Regions from separate parts of the Homo sapiens genome. Here all the other regions are linked to region 2. Evidence: fine-mapped expression QTL. A gene starts in region 2. Each other region holds a variant in brackets. All regions are shown on one strand. Distances are from middle to middle. Region 1 has its middle 19 kb from the start of PROK2. Region 2 holds the start of PROK2 (prokineticin 2). Region 3 has its middle 59 kb from the start of PROK2.

Region 1 (8,149 bases), 20 kb before region 2:
TATTTGATTGGATAAACGAATACATGTTTTCAAAAGGAGACAAATTCCCTGGAAAAGGTACACAAGCAAGAAAATTTTGCAAGTGTTCAATTTTTGTCTATGAAAGCTTTAGTATACTTTTTAAAAAACTGAAGCATATTACATTCCATTTTTTTCTTTCTCACTATGAATCTTCATAGAAGTAAATACTTTAAAGTATAGTTTAATGGGTAGGGGTTTGTTGTTTGTTTGTAAAAATTTATGGAGTACAAGTATAATTTTGTTACTTGTATAGATTTTGTAGTGGTGAAGTCAGGGCTTCTAGGGTATCCATCAACCCAAATTATGTACATTACGCCCGTTAAGAAATTTCTCATCATACACTTCTTTCCATACCCCATCCTTCCAAGTCTTCCATGTCTGTCTTTGCGTACTCTGTGCCCATGTGTACACATTATTTAGTTCCCACTTATAAGCGAAAACATGTGGTATTTATCTCTCTATTTCTGAGTGGTTTCACTTAAGCTGATGGTCTCCAGTTCCATCCATGTTGCTATGGAAGACATGACTTCATTCTTTTTTGTGTCTGCTTAGTATTCCATTGTGTATACATACCACAGTTTCTTTATCCATTCATCTATTGATGGAAATGGTTAGGTTTCATGGGTAGGTATAAGTCTGGTTCCAAAACTAGACCTTTATGTTCAAATCCCAGCTCTTCCACTGACCTGTTTTGGGTTTAGTGTGTGTGTATGTATGTAACTTGACATATACCTGGTTTCCTCATGTGAAACATGAAGTAAATAATAGTCTCCACCTCATAGGATTGTTGAGAGAGTAAATAGCTAATATAGCTGAAGGGCTTGGCATATGTTTTGACACTGTGCTGAAGAAGGCATTGGCTACCATTACTATTATTATTCGAAGAAGACATTTTTAGTTTCATCTCCTACATAATTTTGCAGCCCACTAGGTAGTATATTTCTGGCTGTAAGGCTTGGAAAAACCCATCCTAAATGACATAAAAAATAAGGTGGCTGGGCATGGTGGCTCAAGCCTATAATCACAGTACTTTGGGAGACCGAGGCAGGTGGGTGGCTTCAATTCAGGAGTTGGAGACCAGCCTAGGCAACATAGTGAAATCCTATCTGTTAAAAAAGTACAAAAATTAGCCAGGTGTAGTGGCGCATGCCTGTAGTCCCAGCTACATGAGGGGCTGAGACAGGAGGCTTATTTCAGCCTGGGAGGTTGAGGCTTCAGTGAGCCCTCTTGCTGCCACTACACTCTAGCCTAGGCAACAAAATGAGACCCTGTCTTAATAATAATAATAATAATAATAATAATAATAATAATAATAATAATAATGAAATGGCTGGGCTCAGTGGCTCATGCCTATAATCCCAGCACTTTTGGAGGCCGAGGAGGGAGGGTTGCTTGAGGCCAGGAGTTTGAGACCAGCATGGGCAACATGGTGAAACCCCATCTCTATAAAACACTTCAAAAATTAGCCAGACGTGGTGGCACACGTCTGTAGTCCCAGCTACTCAGGAGGCTAAGGTGGGAGGATCACTTGATCCTGGGAGGTCAAGGCTGCAGTGAGCCCAGATCACACGACTGCACTCCAGCCTGGGCAACAGAGCAAGACCTTGTCTCAAAAATAAATAAATAAAAAATAAGACAGTAAGGAAATGTATTATCTTACCTAACTGGAAGGAGTGGCACCATCAGTAGCTGAAAGATGTCGTCAGATAACTGACTCTCTCCGTCTTTCTCATGATGTTGTAAGCCTCATTTCCAAGTGCCTCATAATAACAAGACAGTTGTCAGTGGCAACTGGAGCTACATACTTCTTTGTTCTCAACTACCTGGTCAAAAATGGAAAAACCACATCTCCAAGTGTGTAATATAAATGTTTCCTTCATTTTGATTGAACCAGTCCTAGTCACAGGACCAATGAGTCATGCAGGCAGGTGATGGGGGAATGGCACATGCCAATAGCCTCCTTAAGATTCACTCCTGGCCTGGCGCGGTGGCTCACGCCTGTAATCTCAGCACTTTGGGAGGCCGAGGTGGGCAGATCACGAGGTCAGGACATCGAGACCATCCTGGCCAACATGGTGAAACCCCGTCTCACTAAAAATACAAAAAATTAGCCGGGCATGGTGGTGGGTGCCTATAGTCCCAGCTACTTGGGAGGCTGAGGCAGGAGAATTGCTTGAACCGGGGAGGCAGAGGTTGCAGTGAGCCGAGATTGTGCCGCTGCACTCCAGCCTGGCGACAGAGTGAAACTCTGTCTCAAAAAAAAAAAAAAAGATTTACTTCTAGAGTCTCGGGTCACATTCTTCTAAGCTATACTTGGTCAGAATCGGAGTTGTGTTAGGAAGAAAGACACAAGTGAATGGATGCGGGGCAATCAGTGTTCACCAATGTACTATTGCTCTCAGAAAATATGGAGATGCCTCTTTTTTCATATTTTAAAAAACTTCTCAATTTTTAATTTTTTTTAAGTTTTAAATTTTTGGAAATAATTGTTTTGTTTTGTTAGTTTTTAGAAAAAGGATCTCACTCTGTTGCCCAGGCAAGAGTGCTGTGGCATGATGACAGCTTACTGCAGTCTCCGACTTCTGGGCTCAAACAGTCCTTCCGCCTCAGCTTCACAAAGTGCTGGGATTACAGGCATGAGAGAGGATGAATTCTAACACATTACATTGTGGTTAGAAACTATGTTACCAGATATAAGAAATAAAATAAAATTACATCTTCATATGTATATTTTATATATTTATAGCTAGCATTTATTGAGTGATTGCTTTGTGCCAGATCTGGCTTTGTGCCAGATAGTCACTCAGATACTATTAAGTGATTGCTTTGTGCCAGATACTACCCATCATTTCCATCAGCCTTCACAAATACCCTTATTTATTTCCTCAGAAAATACTTATGAAGCCCCTACCATACTTCAGGCACTGTCTTGTCACTGGGAATATAGCAACAGCAGGAAAAGACCAAGACCCAGTCCCTCATGGAAACTACATTCGAGAAATAGGAAACTGTGGCTGAGAGGGATTGAGTGAATTGCCCAAAGTTACACAGCTTGAATGTAGCAGAGTCGAGATTTGAACTTCAGAAGTCTAATCTAACTCCAAAGTCAAGAATGGGTGTATTAGTCTGTTCTTGCACTACTATAAAGAAATACCTGAGACTGGGTAATTTATAAAGAAAAGAGGTTTAATTGGTTCATGATTCCTCAGGCTTTACAGGAAGCATACTGGCTTCTGCTTTTGGGGTGGCCTCAG[G/A]AAATGTACAATCATGGCAGAATGTGAAGGGGAAGCAGGCACATGTTACATGGCCACCCCAGGAGGAAGAGAGAAATGGGGGAGGTGCCACACAGCTTTAAACAACCAGATCTTGTGAGAACTCACTCGCTATACTGTACCAAGGGGGGATGGTACTAAACCATTCATGAGAAACCCGCCCTCATGATCCAATCACCTCCCGCAAGTCCCACCTCCAGCATTGGGGGTTGTAATAATTCCAGTTCTCAGCCAATGGCAGGCTTCCTTCTTTCAAGCCTTGACTTTTCAGGGGAGAGCTCTCTGGGGCCTGGAGGAGGCATTGCTCTAGGGGTCAGGCACCATGCCCCACAGTGGCATCACTGCTTGAGAGCACCCAGAACAATGAAAGGCAGCCTGTGAGCCAGGGGAGGGTCCACTCAAACCAAGGGTGTATGGAGCAAACTGCGTAAGCATTGAGGCCCCAGGAGAGATTTGCACAGGAGATGCAGGTGCCCAGTATGATCAATCCCTCTCCCCAGACCTCCAGCCATCATTTGCAATAACCGAAGTTAACATTACCTGATGCTTTGCTTCTGGGGAACCAGTGTGCACAACCTCCTTAAAAAAAATAAGGGTTTGGCTGGGCTTGGTGGCTCACACCCATAATCCCAGCACTTTGGGAGGCCAAGGCAGGTGAATCACCTGAGGTAAGGAGTTCGAGACCAGCCTGGCCAACATGGCAAAACCTCATCTCTACAAAAAATACAAAAATCAGCCAGGTGTGGTGCTGCACACCTGTAATCCCAGCTACTCGGGAGGCTGAGGCAGGAGAATTGCTTGAAACTGGGAGATGGAGGTTGCAGTGAGCCGAGATTATGCCAATGCACTCTAGCCTGGGCAACAAGAGTGAAACTGCGTCTCCAAAAAAAAAAAAAAGAAAAGAAAAGAAAAAAAGGAAAAAAAACGGTTTGTGGCATGTAGTGGGGCGAGACTTTCAGATTTCTGAGCAGGAACCTAAGCTGATAGAAGAATTGTACACACTAAAAATGCCTGGTCCCTGTCATATTGTAGTGATCTGTGACCTTAAATTTAAGTATTCAACTTTCACCAGGTTATTTTGAATTTGAGTTCTGCTAGATAGAATCAAACCTATGTAAGGCTGGGCACGGCAGCTCGCGCCTGTAAATCCCAGCACTTTGGGAGGCCAAGACAGGTGGATCATTGAGGTCAGGAGTTTGAGACGAGGCTGACCAACATGGTGAAACCCTGTCTCTACTAAAAATATTAAAAAATTAGCCAGGCATGGTGGTGCACGCCTGTAATCCCAGCTACTCAGGAGACTGAGGTAGGAGAATTGCTTGAACCCAGGAGATGGAGATTGTAATGAGCCAAGATCACTCCACTGCACCCCAGCCTGGGCGTCAGGGGGAGACTCTGTCTTATAAAAAAATAAAAAGAATCAAACCTATGTTACTAATTGTTACTGAATCATCTGAATTTGACTGGCTTCAAAAGTGTCTTTCCAACAGGACTGTTTGTTTAATTGGGTTTAATATTATGCATTTTTCAACCAGTCTTGAAGAAGTTTTCAAACTCCCACTATGTGTCAGGTGCTATGCTAGGCACTGGGTGAATTAAAAAGGCATAGTCTGGTCCCCGGAAGCAGACTCAGAGATAAAGATTTTTGTGAAAATGATTTATGAAGGCAGGGTCTCCTGGGAACACTGGGCAAAGTAAGAGTAGGGGAACACGGCAAAGCAAGAGGAAGAAGCCCACCAGAGTGGCGATCTCAAACCAAAGGCCAGACTCCACCTGATCCTGCAGGGAGCTCTGGAGAGTCAACTGCATCTAAGGGTTTTTCCTGAGTCAGAATAAAGGAGCTGGGCTTTCATTCTGCTGGGTTAGCAGGTCCTTGGCTACTGGCTACCCCAAGCAGAAAAAAGCACTCCGGCATTTCTGGCCCTCTGCACAAGCAGAGCAGGGCCTCTCTGGGAGCCTGAGAGCAGTTCTGTTGCAGGTCCCACTGACATAGCAAAAGAACAATGCAGCCAAAGTAGGAGAGCATGGAAATGGTAAAGGAATGTGAGGGCTTCTGAGCTGAGCATCAGCAGTGGCTGCTACAAGGTCCCTAAAAGATGGTAATAGTCAGGGGCTAGGCACTCACGCCTGTAATCCTAGCACTTTGGGAGGCCGAGGCAGGTGGGTCACTTGAGGTCAGGAGTTTGAGACCAGCCTGGCCAACATGGTGAAACCCCATCTCTACTAAAAATACAAAAAAAGTAGCTGGGCATGATGGCTGATGCCTGTTATCCCAGCTACTTAGGAGGCTGAGGGATGAGAATCGTTTGAACCTAGGAGGTGGAGGTCGCAGTGAGCTGAGATCACACCACAGCACTCCAGCCTGGGTGACAGAGGGAGACTCTGCCTTTAAATAATAATAATAATAATGTTTTACCAGCTATCTGGGCATCCCTTCTCCCAGTCAGCTTGACACATAAAATTAACCATTATATCTGCCATTATCAAATGCAATAAATGCAGCATAGGAAATAAATAAAGTGCAATTTTGTAAGTACCTATTTGGGAAGAGGCAGACATTCTCAACCTGCAAGCACTCTAACCTTTCCCCTTCCCCTGACTCCCCAACTAGACATAGGCCCCGTGCTGGTGATGGAGCAGCCATGGTGCCCCCACCAGGAGCTATGTGTGAGGACCAACATTCCAAGAATGGCTGGGTGGGAAGATGGAAGAAGCCCCTGCCTCTGATGGCATCGTGGAGCATGGGCACCAGCCCTGGACTGCTGTCTCCAGATTGCTTTTATGTGAGGAATACAATACCAGTGGTAAAAAGCCAGAGGACGTTAGATTTTTCTGTTTCATGCAGCTGAACTTAATCCTAGCTGGTCTCCAAGCCTTAGAGGAAGGATTGGCCTTAGAGAGATGAGAGCACTTGTTTAATTTCACAGGAAGAAGCAGCAGAGGGTAAATGCAAAAGTAGGGAAGAGGCTTCTCACACTAGCTTTTTAATAGAGGTAGAGATGATTGTGACACTCTAATAAAGGAGCACTCAACACAGTAAGTGAAAGGGCATGGCTTATGATCTCTGTGAGAGTCTTCACCTGCAGAAAGCTGGTTCATTTAACCCAGGGCTTTTCAATCTCAGCACTATGGATGTTTGGGGTGGTTACTCCTTTGCTGTAGGGGGCTGTCCTATGTAGTGTGGGGTGTTTAGTAGCATCCTGGCCTCTACCCACAGTAGCACCTCCCCCGAGATGTGACAAACAAAAAAAGTCTCCAGACATTGCCAAATGTCCCCTGGGGGACAACATCAACCCCAGTTGCAAATCACTGGTTTAGCCTGTGAACTTATTCTCTCAGAAAGATATTTAAAACCTAGAAGGGTTTTTTTGTTTTTCTGTTTTTTTGTTTTTTGATGGGAGGAAGGAATGAGGGAGTGACGGAGATGTTGGTTAAACGATACAACATTTCGGTTAAACAGGAGAAATAAGTTCAAGAGATCTATTGTACAACATGGTGACTATAGTTAATAACAATGACTGGGCACAGTGGCTCACACCCATAATCCCAGCACGCTGGGAGACCAAAGTGGGTGGATCACCTGAGGTCAGGAGTTTGAGACCAGCCTGGCCAACATGGTGAAACCCTGTCTCTACCAAAAACAAAAACAAAAACAAAAAATTAGCTGGGCATGGTGGCACATGCCTGTGATCCCAGCTACTCGGGAGGCTGAAGCAGGAGAATCGCTTGAACCCAGGAGGCAGAGGGTGTGGTGAGCTGAGATTGTGCCACTGCACTCCAGCCTGGGTGACAGAGCAAAACTCCATCTCAAAAAACAAACAAACAAAAATATGTGAGGTATGCATATGGTAATTCACTCAGTTTAGCCATTCCGCATGTATACATATTTCAAAACAACATGCTGTATATGAAATATACCTTTTTTACTTGTCAATTTAAATAAATAATTTTAATTGACAGCAAGCTATATTACTCCTATATTTGTGGTTTAGTTATTTTTAAAAAACGCATTGTATCAAGCAACCAAGGAAAAAAACACCTCAACAAGTATTATTTTAATTATCTACAAACTTTATAATTATTGACAAATTATATCCAAACTGTAAGGAAGCTGAAAAAATAATCTTCTTTTGGTTCTACAGGTCTACTACCTTCCTTTAATTAAACATCGAAAACAAAAATTGGCAACTAGAAAAATATATAGTAATATCAATCACAGAACAAATTCACTATAAATGCACCTTAGCTAAGACATTTCCCACTAATACATCCACAATTTCCACATCTATAAATGGAGACGCTTATGCAAGAAAGCCCAGAAGTTTCTTTCTCCTTTAAAATTAAAATCATTCCATGATTCACTGCACAATTTTTGAGTTATGCTGGACCTTAAAATATGATTCCATTTACAAAAATGTGATTTACATGCAAATTTGGGGAAAATAGGTCTATAGAAAGAGGCATCCTGGCTAGGCACGGTGGCTCAAGGCTGCAATACCAGCACCTTGGGAGATCGAGGTAGAAGATGGATTACTTGAGGTCAAAAGTTCGAGACCAGGCTGACTAACATGGTGAAACCCCGTCTCTACTAATAATACAAAAAAATTAGCAGGGTGTGGTGGTGTGTGTCTGTAGTCCCAGCTACTTAGGAGGCTGAGGCCAGAGAATTGCTTGAACCTGGGAGGTGGAGGCTGCAGTGAGCTGAGATCACACCACTGCACTCCAGCCTAGGCAACAGAGTGAGACTCCATTTAAAAAAAAAAAAAAAAAAAAAAAAAAAGAATGAGGCACACTATGTTTTTTCTTCCAGAGGTTCTGTTAAAGAATATAATTATTTTAAGGTAGGAAAATCATCA
Region 2 (8,163 bases):
TCTGGGGAAGAATCCTTCCTTGCTCTTTCAGATCCTGATGGCTGCTGGCAATCCTTGGTGTTCCTTGCCTTGTAGAAGCATTGCTCCAATCTCTGCCCCCATCTTCACTTGATGTTCTCCCGTGTGTGTGGGGGGGGTGGGGTGGGGGGAGTCTAGCCTGTGTCTCTGTATCCAGCTCTCCCTCCCATTTCTCTTATGAAGACACCAGCCATTGAATTTAGAACCCACCCTAATATAGCATGACCTCATCTTAAGTTGATTACGTCTGCAAAAACCCTATTTCCAAATAAGGTCACGTCCACAGGTACCAGGGCTTAGGCCTTGAAAATAACTTGCTAGGGGTCACAGTATAGGCCACTACACTGGCAATCATGAAGCACATGTTGAAATGGAGCCTTATCAGTCAGCCTGAGTCCCAAATTGACTGCCGTGAGACAGGCCTGTGTCTCCCAGCTCACTTCATTTCAGTCACGTGGCCCCCAAGTAAAGAGACAGGCTGAATCATCTGCACCAGGTAAAGCTTCCATCTCTCTTGCTTTTTGGTGACTACCTTTAACGGATTCATATACATGACATGAGTCTGTACTGTATATGATCTTCTCGTAACTGTCTCTGGACTGTCCTTCATGGGACATATTCCTGTTGCTGGTCACTTACTGAATGCCTGCCATATGCCTATTATCGTGCTGTGTGCCAAGAGGGATGCATAGAAAATTAGACACAAGGATCCTAATCATGAAAAGTGTACAATCTAATATAGTGGGCAGGACAGAAAAGACTTATATCAGCATTGGCTGAAATTGTCAGGGGAGACCAAATAATAAGGCTTAATAAGAGGTAACCCTAACAGAGCTCCCAGTCTGTTCCAGGCACTGTGATAAGCATTTTGCAGGTATTATTAAATTCCATAGGGGTTGTACCCCATGAGGTTGGTATTTTATAACCATTTTACAAGACCGGAAACAGAGGCTTCAAAAGGTTGTGTAACTTGCCCAGTGGTCACACAGGATTCCAATCCTGATCAGCCTGTCTCACAAACATTGGGTTCTATAGACGCTCCTAGATTGCATTTTCGTTTAAGCTGAGCCTTGATGGTCTGCTGGAATATGGTAGGCTACACTTTACACACACAAGGCTCATTTCACCTAATACAGTTATGCCTGGGCAGAAGTGATCATGTGGCAATATCAACAGGTTACAGTAATAGAAAAGAATCAATAAACTACTGTTTCATTTCTATGTCATTGTTGCTAAGTTGTCCCAACTACCTTTTTTAATGGACTAATCCAAACTCTTTTTTTTTTTCATTTTTCCCTTTATAACAATTGAAGTCAGACTTCATTTTTCAAACTTGGCCTCAGATACAAAGATGACATATCAAGAGCCTTCATTTCTCTCCTAAAGCATTAAAGCAATTAAAATTTCCAAAAGAACATGAAACTAAACAACCCTATTTTTAAGTGTTTCCAAACTTATTTCTTTTTTTTAAACTTGTTTCAAAACAGCCTTATGAGGACTGTTTTCCAAACAGCTGTGTAAGAAGCCAGCCACTTTTGAAATCTGATTTTTCCTGTGTAGACATATCATATTTTCTATGCTTGAAGAAGCAGGGAATACCCAAGCTGGCATTCAATAGTAGCGAATATGAAATAGACCATTAAAAGAAAGTCATAGGAATGTTAAAATCCATGTTGACTGGTTTTTACATTTACCCGGCAGCATTCCCGAGCTAGCGTTGGCATGGAGACTGGAAAAGGAAACTTTCCACAAGTCTGTCACTTGCTACTGTTTCTACTTACTCCACTGTGAGTCCAATTTTAACATTTTTTTAAGTTGAAAAAAGGGTTTGACTCCTTTTGTGTTTTCTGTTCAAGGCGTTTTTTAAACATGAGAACACGTGTGAAAAAGGTTTTTAAAAATCAGCCAAAGATTGGGGTTTCCAAATATTCAGCTGTTTAACATTCAGATAATTGCCTGCCTTCCCCCCGCTATCCCCCACATTTCGTCTGAATGCTTTGGCACGGGGGAGCCCCACAGTCTGAAAGTAACTCTGTCCCAACTCTCCTTACTGCATTTATTAAAGAGGCTGAAAGACGCATCTGCTTTTCAATAGTTTGCGGTTCTTAAGAGACCAGGAAAGCCAGAGGTTCTGACTATTCAGGAAGAAAGTTGGGTTTCCCAAAACGGGCAAGCAAGTTCGGTGTGGTCACATCTAGGTATTCTTGACGTCATTTTTGTTGAGGGAAACAGGCTGCAGTTTTTGGAGCCAGGCTAGGATGAGAGATGGAGGGCAAATCTGTCACTTATTCTTTCCTGGTGTGCCTGGAACCCACTAGACACTCAATTCATGTTTACGTGAATGAAGGAATCACAATAACGCCCTATCGCATCTGTAAAACCGAAGGGTGATTTTCCTGGGCTGGAAAGTTTAAGAAAGAAGAGAGAGCTGCGTACCTAGGGCTTAAGGGGCCTCAGGCTGGCACTCGAAACCAGGCGTTCTCATTTCCCTTTGGCATCACCCTGAACGGCTGTGCCTGGAGCTGGCGCGGGGCTGAAGAGGGGAGGAAATACATGTGAGGAAAATCAGAGGAGAGGGTCGGGAACAGATGTGGGCATAAAGGGAAGGCCTCTGACTTGAAATAAACAAATAGGAGTCCCGCAGCTGGAAGGACAAATCCTTTCACGTCGCGGGTGATGTGGGATTGGGGCGATTTTGCTCTCCCTTTGTTCTTTCCCCTGCCTTCCACGTTTCCAGGGTATTTGATTGATGTCTGTCTTCTCTGTTAAGTTATTCCACCGTGAGGAGAGAGCCGGTGGCAGTACCTGGCACGCAGCGGGCGCCCAGTATAGACCTGCTGAACAAACGAATGGATTCAGGGGCTGCTGTGTCCCCCTCACCCACCCCCCGCCCCCTATGTGTCCACAGCGCCCCGCACGTAGTAGGCGACCCCTAAACATCTGTACAGCAAATGATTTGCAAGTTTTCGGCGCTGAGCACGTGGAGCTTTGGAAACCAGGACAGCAAATGAGTGTCTCGGAGACCACAAAAGCGGTTCCGGCGCGTGCGAAAGGCGGTGGCTGGGCGACGGCGGAGGGAACGGCGCAGAGCGGGGCGCCCCGCCGGGAGCGCTGCCTGCGTGGCGCCCGAGGCGGGGGCGCGGGGGGCCGCGCATAGCACGTGCTCGTCTGGGAGCCGGCCGGGCCGAGGCGGGCGCGCGTGTGCGCGTGGGGCGTGGGGTGTGTGCCCGCGCCGTGCCCCCCGCGTGTGCTGCCGGGCGGGCGCCGGCGTGAGTCACGGCGGGGCTAGCCTTTATAACGGCCCGGAGGCTCGCGGGAGCCGCCGCGCCCGTCCGCCCGCCGCTCCGCGCTCCACCCAGCGCACCCGGGCCCCGCGCCCCCAACTGCCTCCGGCGGCCGCCCAGTCCCGAGGGCGCCATGAGGAGCCTGTGCTGCGCCCCACTCCTGCTCCTCTTGCTGCTGCCGCCGCTGCTGCTCACGCCCCGCGCTGGGGACGCCGCCGTGATCACCGGGGTAAGCGGCCCGGGCGCACCTGTCTGCCCCTGATGCGCGCCTGGGATGTGCCCAGGGGGCTTGGGACGGGGACCCTGAAGGGCAGGCTAGAGGCAAAGGGAGGGTCGCCCTGGGCGGGGACACCTGCCCCTGTCGCCCCTTGGTGCACTTGGGAAAATACCCAGATCCAAAAGCAGCAGACGGCTGGGGACACTGGGCGCGTCCTGGAAGAAACAGTGACAAGGATGTCGCCCACCACCTTTATTACCACCTTCTCCCGCTTACTTCTCCCTCATCACCCACGGCCTCACTCCTCGCATTTTTCTTCTGTTAGGCTGAAAGAAGTTTCTCTCTGAGTCTTCTCAAGTACTTTTGGAGGCTCTCCAACCTCGAACCTTAAAATTTGACGGCCCCTTCCTGAAATGCAAAGGACCAAGACGAATTCCCCAAGTGCCCAGAGTCTTAATCCTACAGTCAAAGAGTTTGCTCCCCGATGCGTCCTCCGCAGAAACCCTTTGAAATCGCTTGGTCCAGGGCCATGTGAGCGCTTTGAAAAGCAATTGTGGGAGCTTCCTTCTGGGTTCCGGGGCTTTCCCCCGCGCTCAGGGTCTTGAGGTATCCCCATAAAAGTTTTAAATTTCTAATTCCTGGCAAAGCACCTCCAGTGCTCCAGCATAATGATGGAGTAGGTTGCTGTGTAGATGTTTAAACTTAGAGACGATGTTTTCATCTTTTCTGTAAGTAGGAACTAGTTCAGTTCTCTCCCACTCTCAACAATTTTGTGTGGATCTGAAAAAATTGGGTTTGCAGTACAATACTAAATAGTCTAGTTTACATTAACAAGGCAAAACTGCTATCATTTCCTGGTTGTTCAACTTCTTTACTGTTTTTTAAGTGAGGAATTATTTCACACCTTCATTAAATTACTTCAAATATTTAAGTGCACATAATGGGATTTAAATAAAACGTCTATGTTTGAAATGTTGATACATAGATAATATCATTTGACTTTAAAGGAAGTATCTTTGTCTTGAAAAAATCAAGCTCTATTTTCTCTATATTAGTTATTAGGTTTATAGAATTTTGAAAGTCCTTTTGCTATGACAGCATTTGTATATATCCAACAGATATTTAACTGTAAGCTCTGTGATATTTATTAGAAAAGAGATTTTTTCAAAAAATTACTTGCATAGCTTTGCCAGTCCATGTGGTTGAGAAAAACTTTTTGCAGGTCTTTCTAATACATGAGAATTGAAACATGATTGGATTTTTTTCTCCCTCTTCTCCTGCTGGCTCATTTAAAGTTTCTCCTAATCCTCTGAGCCCAAGATCCCTTTGCAATATAAGTATCTTTTTGTTCCATTCACAGGACAACACTATCTGAATAGATTTGCAATGGGTTAAGGATGAAGGGCATTAGGAAACAGCTGTCTAATTAAAAATATATAAACCTATGCAACTCTTTGTAAATTTTCCAAGAACTGAAGCTTTTGTTACAAAATAAAATTTTATCACATTGGCTGTCTATCTGTTAGAGAGGCTTAGACTGGGCTTATTATATAGTTATGTGTGCTGTTTTTGTTGTTGTTATTTTAACTCAGTGTTACAAAAAGAGAATTTTAAAAATGTCTCTAAAGCAACAGGGCAATAAAATGTAGTTATGTCTCCATGACAGGAACCATCTGGATTCAAATGAAAAACTCAGTAACTTATCAAGATACATTGTGTATAGCATGTTAAACATCCAGGTGATTGAATTTTAAAAGATTTTGGCTGGATTTTTGATTGGTTCATAAAAAAAAGCTCATGGGGCCTCAAAATTCGAGGTATTGAGCATCTGTTGAAATAAAATGCTGGCTAAAACTTTCACCTGACATCCACAGTTTTTTGGGTAGTGTATGTAGGTATTTTGAAATTGATTTATATGCCCACATAGATTTGTTAAAACTATATTGTAAAAGATCATTGACTAGACATCTTATTTATGGGATGTAATGGCTACATATACATGATTTCTGGCATGCAGATAAAAATTGGAAAATTGAAACATTTACATATTGTCCTATAAAATCCAAACACCTCAAGGTGAAATTTTTAGCTTTTATCCAGATACTTTGTTTAAATAGACTGAGAAATAAATTCTAATGAGGGAAGTAAATGAACTTTAAAGCAAAATAGTTGGTTACTTTTAATGAGAAATAATGTTAAGAATGTACCCATATTTTTATATCTTGAGAAGTTATGACTGTCCTCAAAACTAAGAATTTTGAAGGACTGTTTTAGTTGTTTCCACTAATTGTACATTTAAATTTGTGCCTAGATGATAGAGGTTTTAGTTTCTTACATATATAGTACAGGATGTTTTTATCTTATCACTACCAAAACAGATTACTGCCCACGGTTCAAACAAAGCATTCTATTTTTTGTTGGTTCTAGGAAAGAATAATAGTTCTTCAGATCCATTTTCATGCAAATAGATTTAGATTTTATTATTTATTTCTATTTACTAGAGTATGGAAATTCCTCCATAGTTGATTGTTTCATTGTATGTATTTACAACTTTTATATTGAAAGCAGGTGACTTGAGTAATTACTATTGACAATTGCACCTGTTACTTGCATTTCTTAATTTGATGGATCTTACAGGATTGTTAGCTGATTTTGTAATGTACATATATGTTTATGCTAAGCCAGTAATTTGCTCTTTGCAGCTTATTCACCTGAAGGAAGAGTAACATAAGGCAAGCATCTTGGTCTGTCCACTTTCAAACTATGAGACTTCTTTAAAGAGAAAATGGTGAAAAAGCAAGTCAGTGGTGTGAGAAACGTCAAGTCTCTTGAACCAAAATGCAAATATTTGAAGGGGAAAATGAGCACTTCTGAAATTTACATCAGTGCCTTTATGGGTCTGGAGTGTTTCATGCCAGATTTAGAGACTATTTAAATCTCTTTTTTTAAATTGGCCCCAGTGTATTCTGCAGTTAATAGTCACAAAATCTTGTGATTCCATTTATGTAGTTCCTAATGGCCATGTGTAGTATAAGAGTAATATAGTCTTGTTCTTCAAGTTCAAAGCCAATTCAGCCATAAAGCACTGGAAAAAGAGAGCTGATTTCATTTAAAAAAAAATCTTATGTTTATTTAAGATTTTCATAATCCAGGGGCTAGAATTTAGCCCACTTTCGAAAAATGAGAAATAGCTATTCTGATCAGATTTTATAATAGCTATATACAAGTAAATGAAGGTTATCATTTAAAAAATATACCTGATTATTAAAGTCCAAGTGTTTAGATATTTAAAGGGCATTTCACTGCTAATTTTAGGTTTCCTTAGCCTGAGTCTTTCCTGTTATCTATATTTATCTGTTTGTTTATTACATTTCAGGCTTGTGACAAGGACTCCCAATGTGGTGGAGGCATGTGCTGTGCTGTCAGTATCTGGGTCAAGAGCATAAGGATTTGCACACCTATGGGCAAACTGGGAGACAGCTGCCATCCACTGACTCGTAAAGTTAGTATATATATATTTGTATTCATGGTGGTTCTACTGTGGTAACTCTGAGCAGGGTCTGTATGACATGAAGGACTGGGTAACGTGCTCGACAAACAAAATGAATATTGGACATTAGCAAGGATAACAGTGTAAAACTACCCCCTCTCCTCTCCCCTTTCATTTCAAAGAATTGTATCCTCTGTCTTTCTTATTCCAGTGATAGTTTTCATGTTACTGCTCTCATGGTGTTAGAAGCATTTTACCAATATAATTTGCAACACATGAATTTGCTTAAAAGTTATTTAGAACAAAAATATATATTATACTCTAGTATGCATCTTTGCAGAAATCTGAGTATAGAAGTTCTTAAAAAGACTGCTTTTAATATTAGATCTACTGATAAGGCAGAAGTAAGGAAGCTCTGTGTTTTGGGATTTTTTAGAAAATCGATTATACAATTACTCTTGTATGTTAGTTTAAATATTCTATATTTTGACTCTACCTACAGGACACATTTTTCAAAATTTTAGAGATCGATGATATTTAATTTTCCAATTTGCTTTATTATCTGTCAGCTCAATATCACAGTGACCTAAATAACACTTTTGAAAAGTTATTAACAGTAGTGGCATGATCATAGGGTGGCAGGATTGGACAGGGTTTGAGAGATTGTATCTCCAAGGGTTGCAGACCCACCTGTCTACAGGGGTCAGGAAGGTTTATATTACATGAGGAAGCGGGTGGGTGGGAGGCAGAAGGCATGTGGAGCTGGAGGTTCTTGGCCTTCTGGTTGAAAACCTTTGAAACACAGTGTGGTCTCAACAGAGCACCCCAGGAATGCCAGGTTGCATTGCCTTCCTCTGGTCCCACCTCCGCATTTTTCCCATTGGTAAAGTGCCTCCAGTGGCGTTGCAACAAGTCCTAGGGCAGGTGGTTTTCGAGAGGCAGAGCTCAGTCTCTTTAGAATGTTCTTTCTACACATTGTATACTTTCTTTTAGATACAAGTAGAATGTTATCAGAGCAAACCAAATTCCATTTTCTGTCTTATTTTTTCACATGTGATTTAGGGTTTAAAAATGTAACACAGCCAAACATCATTCCCATACTCCACAGTCCCAGAGAACAGTTAATATTTTCACCTCCTCGGAGTGAACAGAAT
Region 3 (8,201 bases), 60 kb before region 2:
ATTTAGGCAAGATTTATATATTAAGTGAGTGGGATACAGAACAAGACATAGGACCAAAGTAACATTATATAAATTCCTTTCTGATCATGTGTCAGTTATTTATTGCTGAGTAACAAATCATTCAAAGAATCTAGTGGCTAAAAACAATAATCATTTCTTATTCTTTATTACTCTGTGGGTCAGCTGGTTGGTTCTTCTGTCTGGGCCAAATTTATTGGTCTCTACGGACAGCTGGTGGCCCAGCTGGGGCTGATGGATCCCAGATGACCTCACTCAAATGTCTGGCAGTTAGCAGAGATGGCTGGATGGCTGAGGCCTCCCTTCACATGGTCTGTTGAGATGATCTAGGATGGCTTGACTCACATCTCTGGGAACTCATCTGGACTAGCTGGGGCCATGCTCCATGTGGTGTCTCATCCTCCAGTAGGCTGGCCTGAGCTCCTTCACGTGGTGGTCTCGAGGTTTCAATAGCAAAAGAGGGAAAGCCCTGGTACACAAGCATTTTCCGAGCCTCTGATTGCATGATGTTTATTAGTATCCTATTGGCTGAACAAAGTTGCATAGTGATGCCCAGATTCAAGAGATGGAGAAATGGACTCATTCTCTAGTTAGTATGTCTAGTAGAATTTTCTTCAATGAAAGAAATATTTCATATCTGCCCTGTCTAAGTGGTAGCCACTAGCCACATGGGGCTATTGAGCACTTGAAATGTGGCTAATACAACTGAGGAACTGAATTTTTCATTTTAATTTATTTAAGCTTAAATTTAAATGGGTACATGTGGCTGGTAGCTACCACACTGAGTAGTGTAGTTCTAGATACAGAATCCCTTATGGTATATTCTAGCCAAAAATGCTTGTCTTGAATCCATCAGTCCTTTAGATCTAACCTATCATTTGCAGGAGATGGAGGGGTACAGGAATCAGCTACATGGCACAGTAAGGAAGCAATCAGACAAATCTAGAAGGTGAGATATTCCACAGGAAAACCAGTCCAGTGTCCTCAACAAGCCAATGTCATCAAAAAGGAAATCAGGATAGACTGGGTAGAAATAAGGACTATATCAGCCAGATTTGATTCTTGAGAGGATTTCTGGAGAGGACAAGCCAGTTATAAAGGTCTTTTTAGCTTAATTGGTGAAATTTGAATATGGTTTAGCTATTCAATGACATAAAAATATACTGAGTGGGCCAGACACAGTGGCTCGGCTGAGGTGGACAGATCACTTGAGCCCAGGAATTCAAGACCAGCCTGGGCAACATAGTGATGCCCTGTCTCTACAAAAAATACAACAACAACAACAACAACAAAATTAGCCCAGTGTGACAGTAGTTGTAGTCCTAGTTACCCAAGACACTGAGGTGGGAGGATCACCTGAGCCCAGGAGGTAGAGGCTGCAGTGAGCAGTGTTTGCGCTACCGTACTCCAGCCTGGGCGGCAGAGTGAGACCCTGTCTCAAAAAAAAAGTACTGAAGTGGAAAGGTAAAGATCATTGGCTGAAAATGTAAGTTTTAAGACAGTAAGTGGAGTGTCATCTCACACTGGTAAAGCAGAATACATACTAATATGTGTGTATATAAATACAAATATATGTACAAATACATAAAGATTCGGAAGCATATGGACGAAGATCTAACATATGGTGATTCTGGGTGATGGTAAGGTGAAGTTTTTGTTTGTGTTTCCTAATTTTCTATAAATATAAATGCACTGCTTCTATACTAGTGAAGAGGTTATTCAATATAAAAGAGATAAAGACGCTACTAAGTGTCTCGGAGGTGCCAGAGACAAGCAGCTATTTTACAGTGTTTATGCGCGTGCGTTTGTTTAGGAAATGCTCTATCCCGATAACGTTGCAGATAATACGTGCGGACAAGGGGAGACCTATGAGGCTCAGCAGCTGCTGAAAGGGTTTAGCTAATCTCGAGGATCTGGTAAGTGGATCACTTCCTTGTGACACCACAGAAGCTCCAGCCATCAATTTGGATTAGTCAGTCAGCATATCCCATTGGGCAGCATGTTCTAGAGTGTTCTAGTATGAATCATTCATGGAGGCTTCTGGTTATGTTACTTGGTTTCCCTCAGAAATAATGGCCCCAGGGATTGAATGCTGTGTAACAGAGAAAGTGAATAAATTGGTGCAGGCCCTGCCAGGTGTCAAACAAATAGGAATATATCACAGGAAAAGTGCTCCATCTATAATTAATGACAACATTTTTAAGCTTTACCAGAAATTGATAATACAGTGGTTTCTTTTAATGCATTTTCCCTTTAGTAATGTGTACATATTTTAAAGTAGGTCTAGCATTAAATATACATCAAACTCTTCTTATAGAAAAATGTAATCGTTGAATAGAAAAATATTATATTTATAAATATCTCATTGTTACATTTTATGCAATTATTCACTCTGGGTGTTCAGTGTAGAAGTTTCAGGAATATAATACTTGTCACAGAAAGCATATTCAAGACTATCAAGTAAAAAAGCAAACTTATGACTGCCAATTTTTTTGAACTTTTGGCATAATTTCCAAATTGCTACTGTCATAATAAAAATCTAGATTGCCACTAGTTTGTCTTGGAATTACATGGCTATCTTTTAAAATAAGCATATATTGTCATTTCTGAGTTACAAACCCATTTAGGTAGCTTAATCTTTCTAGCAGTCAACTGAATAATTAAATAGTAAGGTAAGAGCTTTTATTATCCCTCAAATCTGCAATTGAACATTTGCCATGAAACAAATGGATACATTTCTCTTCAGGATCCATTAGGGAGAAAGGGGAATTTTAAAACTCTTAAAGTCTAGCAAACAGCAGTTGTTCAAGTGTTAAGTTCTACCAAATAAAATTAAGTGAAATCAAATTCTCTTCCCATTTGTATACTTTATGTCTTTGTTCAAATTGCTTGTTCTGAGACACAATAGGCTGTCACACCTGTCCCCTAAATTTCCAAAACATTAAGTCATCACTCTATTGTCTAACTTCTATTAGTGCCATATGCATTCTCCCTTAAATTTGAGAGTAAACACAAGCTTTAACAAGTTCCCAAAATCATCTTATTTTTTTCAAGAGTCTCCAACAGTCAACATTGTTATCAAGTCCCTAAGAATATTATTGTTTCATTATAGTTCATTTGCAATTGATACACAATATGATTTTTTGGTTATAGACAAAGAACAAGAATGATTTTGTGCACCTTTGTATTTATAAGTGGTCTCTCAAACTGCTGGCCCAGGGATCCATCAATAAACATCCATCAGGTTTATTGAGCATAGTTATCTACAAAGTGTTTCATCTAAATGAGGAAGGTGGTGGGCATCACAGGAGGAGAAAGGCAAAGCCTTCAGAGCTAGATAGTGTGCATTGCACATATTCATTCTTCTATATACAACAAGAACTTGCAATACACCAAGCATCATGCTAGGTGTTAGAGACACAGCAGTGAACAACACAGGCACTCACGTAATTTTCAGACTGCTGGGAGCACCAGATATTTGAAGTAACTATGCAATTAATTAACTGCAATCATGAGAAGTGATATGAAATACACACATGATAAGAGTATGTAACAAGGCAACCTGACCTGTTGGGGACAGAAAATGAGGGCTGAATGGTGGGCAGGGGATCACTTAGGAAAGGCTTAACTAAGCAAAGAGAAGGAGGAGAAGGAGTTAGTAGATGAAGAGCAGAGAGTATTACAGACAAGGAGGGAACAGCATGTACTAAGGCCCTGGGGTGGGAAGGAGCATAGCAGTTCTAGGAATTGAAAGAAAGCAAGGATGGTTGAAATGCAGAGACTGAATAAGAGAATGGCAGGATATGGCCAGAAAGAAGCAGAGGTCAAGGAGATGATACAGGTCACCCAAAAGACACCATGTAAATTTCATTTTCTGGGGTTAGGTTTGAGAAAAAAGGAAAGATTGGGCCAAATAGTTAGGCTTTAATATAATAAACAACAGTGCCCCCATTTGAGTAGGAGAAAAAACTTTCTGTCAATGGTATTTGAGCAATAGAGCATAGCTAGGTTGGTAAAAGGGGAAAAAAATACGCAATCTGAAGAGAAACCAGAGTATTAGCCAGGCTGGGATCAGGAGTGAGACTGGAGACAGAGCTTCCAGCTCAGAGGATCTGCAGAACTCTGTCCAAGGGGCTTATGAGTAGACGTGGAAGGAAAAAAGGAAACGTGCAGCTGAGACACATTCATTAGAGGGACAAGAACCCACTGGCTTTGTGAGAGAACAGAGGAAAGGAGGGAAGGAGAGAGAGGAATTGAAACAAAGCAAAGAATATGAACAATGCTCATGGCATTGATTCACCAATAATTGATAGGAGTTGGTGGAAAATACCCCTCATCTTCATGAGTCGTGTTCTGTAGCATCTCCCAGAGGTCCCCAGTGGGATTGAGTCTTCGTTTTTACATTTCTTCTTCTTTTTGTTTTTGTTTTGCTTTGTTTGAAATGAGGTCTCACTCTGTCACCCAGGCTGGAGTGCAGTGGCACGATCATAGTTCACTGCAGCCTCAACCTCCCAGGCTCAAGCGATCCTCCCACCTCAGCCTCCCAAGTAGCTGGGACCACCACTGAGAGCTACCATGCCTGGCTAAGACACTAAGACAGGGTGAGTAGAGAGGAGAAGATGGAAAACACACACACAAGCACACATACACGCATTTTAAGTTTGGCAGCTTCGACACAGACGACAAGTGGGATATAGCTTTGGCCACCATTTCCATGCACATGATCACTGAATCCCACAGAGGCTGAGTTTCTCAGAGAAGAGAGGCTCAGACATTGCTGAAGGATCTGGGAAGGTACACTTAAGGTGGTGTCGGGGATGCTGTTATGAATGAGAGTGACAAAGGGGTTTGGTTTTGGAGGCTTCATTGCGGAAAGCTTTCAAAACAGTTGCTCAGAAATTTGGAGGTGAATCTATGCCTTTGAGAAAATTGTGGAAGAACAGCACACGTGATA[T/C]ATGGAAAACTTCTGTGTTTACGTAATTTTCTTGTCATTATTTTGTGTAGTAATATTGTTACTTCAGTAAGAGGTTAGGCAATTTATTTACGAAAACTGGCTGGGCACGGTGGCTTATGTCTGTAATCTCAGCACTTTAGGAGACTGAGCCAGGCAGATTGCTTGAGCATTAAAGGTCAAGACCAGCCTGGCTAACCTCTCCAGACTCTGTGTCTACAAAAGATTTAAAAATTAGACAGGTGTGGGGGAACGCACTTGTAGTCCCAGCTACTCAAGAGGCTGAAGGGAGAGAATCACCCGAGCCTGGGAGGTTGAGGCTGCAGTGAGCCAAGATCGTGCCACTGCACTTAAGCCTGGACAATAGAGTGAGACCCTGTCGCAAAACAGCAATAACAAAAGAAAGCTAATTTGTATGTGCCTTATAGGATCCACTTAAGGATAGTTCTAGTATATTTCCAAAGGTTTTTTTTTTTTTAGAACTTCAAGAAGGCTTTTTTTTTTTTCTGGTATGTTTCCAAAGGTTTTTTTAGAACTTCATGAAACCTGTTGCCCAGGCTGGAGTGCAGTGGCATGATCAATCTTGGCTCACTGCAACTTCTGTATCCTGGGCTCAAGTGATTCTCCTGCCTCAGCCTCCCGAGTAGCTGGGATTACAGGCATGCGCCACCACACCAGACTAATTTTTGTATTTTTAATAGAGATGGGGTTTCGCCATTTGGCCTGGCTGGTCTCAGATTCCTGACCTCAAGTGATCCACCCACCTCGGCCTCCCAAAGTGCTGGGATTACAGGCATGAGCCACTATGCCTGGCCTACACAAAACCAATTTTTAAAATGCTGAGTGTACACTGCCTTACACTTATCTAGCCCATTGTTATCCTAAATATTTCACAACAATTTACACCGCTTTAATCCTTACCAAATATTGGTGAGGAAATGCATTCTGATTCTCATTCTCAAGATGAGGAAATTGACACAGAGAGGAAAAGTGACTCATCTAGTTACTAGTTACTTCCATGGTTGATGATAAACCTGACACAACCGTGCGGACGGCTTCACTTCTAGCATATCTCTGGTTTGAATTTAATTAGAAATGAGTCTAATTTAATAGGTTTGTTCTGTCGTTGGACATTTCATGGTTTATGAAGGAAATGCTCCTGGAGCTATCATTTTGAAATGAAAGGGCATGTGTTCTAAGAAGGTTTTTTTCCTCCCCTAGGAGCTATTTAGATTACGTAGTTCAATGGGGTTATAATAAAGATTTGTCTTTTCTTGTGGTCCCTTAAGAAAAGGACTTCAGTAATAAAAGATCTTTTAAGATGAAGGGCTTACCCCCCTAACCCACAAAAAACCCCCACAGGATCAGGAAGTATAGCTGGGGACATACTTCCAAAGAAATTTAGTCCAATAGAGTTCACTTGATATTTTTAAAGGTCTCTATTACCTAAATTAATAAACTGAATATTTTCCAATTTTTTCCTTTTTCTGTCTTAAGCAGTTTACTTCTGTCTTCTACTTAAAGATGCTCATTAAGATTGATCATCACACCAGGCATGGTGGCAGGCACCTGTAGTCCCAGCTACTTGGGAGGCTGAGGCAGGAGGATAGACTGAGATTAGGAGTTCAAGATCAGCCTGGGCAACATAGTGAGACCCCATGTTAAAAAATAAAAATAAATTGATCTTCAGAGAGTGTATTGGTTTGCTAAGGCTGTTATAAGAAAATACCACAGACTGTGTGGCTTAAACAACAGAAGTTTCTCATGGTTCTGGAAGCTGTCCAAGATCAAGGTGCCCGCAGGTTTGGTTTCCTTCTGAGGCCTCTCTCCTTGGCTTGCAGATGGCCACCTTCTTACTGCTGTTAAAGCGAACTAAATATGGCCTGAGAAGGACTCCGTACTTCTATATTTGAGTCCTTGTGGGCGAACTGAAGCCTAACTTAATAGGTAGACAAGATCGAAACCCTAACTTAGGAGTATGCGCCTGGAACGATCGCTGAGTCTTGGCCAATCCCAGCAGCCACACTTCAACTACTCATACACTGCCGAGTGTTCCAACTGTGCTCAAATAAGGCAAACACTGAGCTGTAACCAATCCAGCTGTTTCTGTACCTCACTTCTGATTTCTGTACGTCACTTTTCTTTTTTCATCCGTAAATTGTTCTGACCGTGAGGCACTCCTGAAGTCTCTGAATCTGCTGTGATTCCGGGGGCTGGCTGATTTACCAATCGTTCATTGCTCAATTAAACTCCTTTAAATTTCATTCGGCCCAAGTTTTTCCTTTAACACTGCGTCCTCACGTGGTCTTCCCTCTGTACACATGCGTGTCTGGTGTCTCTTTTTGTGTCCAAATTTCTTTTTCTTATAAAAGGATACTAGTCAGATTGGATTAGGCCTGCCGTACTTTGAAGGGCTTATCTCCGAAAGTATTCAGGCCCACCCATATGTCCTCATTTAACCTTAATTAACTCTTTAAAGGGCCTATTTCCAAATATAGGAACATTCTGAAGTACTTGACATTAGGGCTTCAACATGGGGATTTTGGGGGTTGACAAAGACTTTTTCTAAATAACCTTTGGCCAGGCTCCTCTGAGAGCCTGGCCAAAAGCAAACAACAACAACAACAACCAAAAAAAAAACCAAAAAGCTAGGCCTAAACCTTGTATTCTTCCATTAAAATCCAGTCTTAGCAACAATCCTGGTAAGTCAGCTTAGCAAGAATCCTCAACCTTGGCAACTATTCAACTTCCCCCTCAGATCCAATGCCTCATCCCCCACTCTTGGTATCTGATCACCTTGACCTCCCTTCAGCAAGAGTCCTATCAAGTCAGTTTAGCCAGAGACCCCTCTTACTCCTACTGTCTCCTCTTAGTAATTTTCTATCCATTGAACCCCTCCACCCTGCTCCTTGGCCATAAATTCCCACTTTTTCATGCTGTATTCAAAATTATTGCATTCCAAGTTCTATACTGAGGTCTTTTCTCCCCTATTGTAACAGTTTCTTTTTGAATACAGTTTACTTTCACTGCTTTAACTTCTGGCCAGCCCTGGTTTTCTTTAACAGGGGACACAATTCAACCCATTACAGAGAGGATATAAGCATGTTCATTTGTGGGTCTTTCAGAACTGAAAAGTGATTTTCCCCCTTTCTGGAAAGGTAATGTTGACCTCTTTGATCCTTGAGTATTCTCCACTCTGAGGAGTGAAAAACACTCCACTCCACTGCACAAC

The links.
Region 1: its variant is fine-mapped to the expression of PROK2 in whole blood (TOPMed, PIP above 0.99). The same link has a PIP of 0.9 or more in blood mononuclear cells, monocytes, monocytes after LPS, neutrophils and spleen.
Region 3: its variant is fine-mapped to the expression of PROK2 in whole blood (TOPMed, PIP above 0.99).

What each region holds. Positions count from the first base shown.
Region 1 is chr3:71,800,563-71,808,711 of GRCh38, reverse strand. No RefSeq gene overlaps it. Among named protein-coding and RNA genes, the nearest start is that of PROK2, 19 kb to the right of the region's middle. The variant G/A (reference allele first, on the strand shown) is at 3,276.
Region 2 is chr3:71,780,325-71,788,487 of GRCh38, reverse strand. PROK2 (prokineticin 2) reads left to right here and starts at 3,340. Exons shown (of 4, transcript NM_001126128.2): 1 at 3,340-3,531; 2 at 6,896-7,021. The coding sequence starts at 3,436. LOC105377156 (a long non-coding RNA gene) reads right to left here and starts at 3,098. Exons shown (of 4, transcript NR_199161.1): 1 at 2,965-3,098; 2 at 2,741-2,852; 3 at 2,455-2,551; 4 at 2,061-2,271.
Region 3 is chr3:71,840,112-71,848,312 of GRCh38, reverse strand. No RefSeq gene overlaps it. Among named protein-coding and RNA genes, the nearest start is that of PROK2, 59 kb to the right of the region's middle. The variant T/C (reference allele first, on the strand shown) is at 4,973.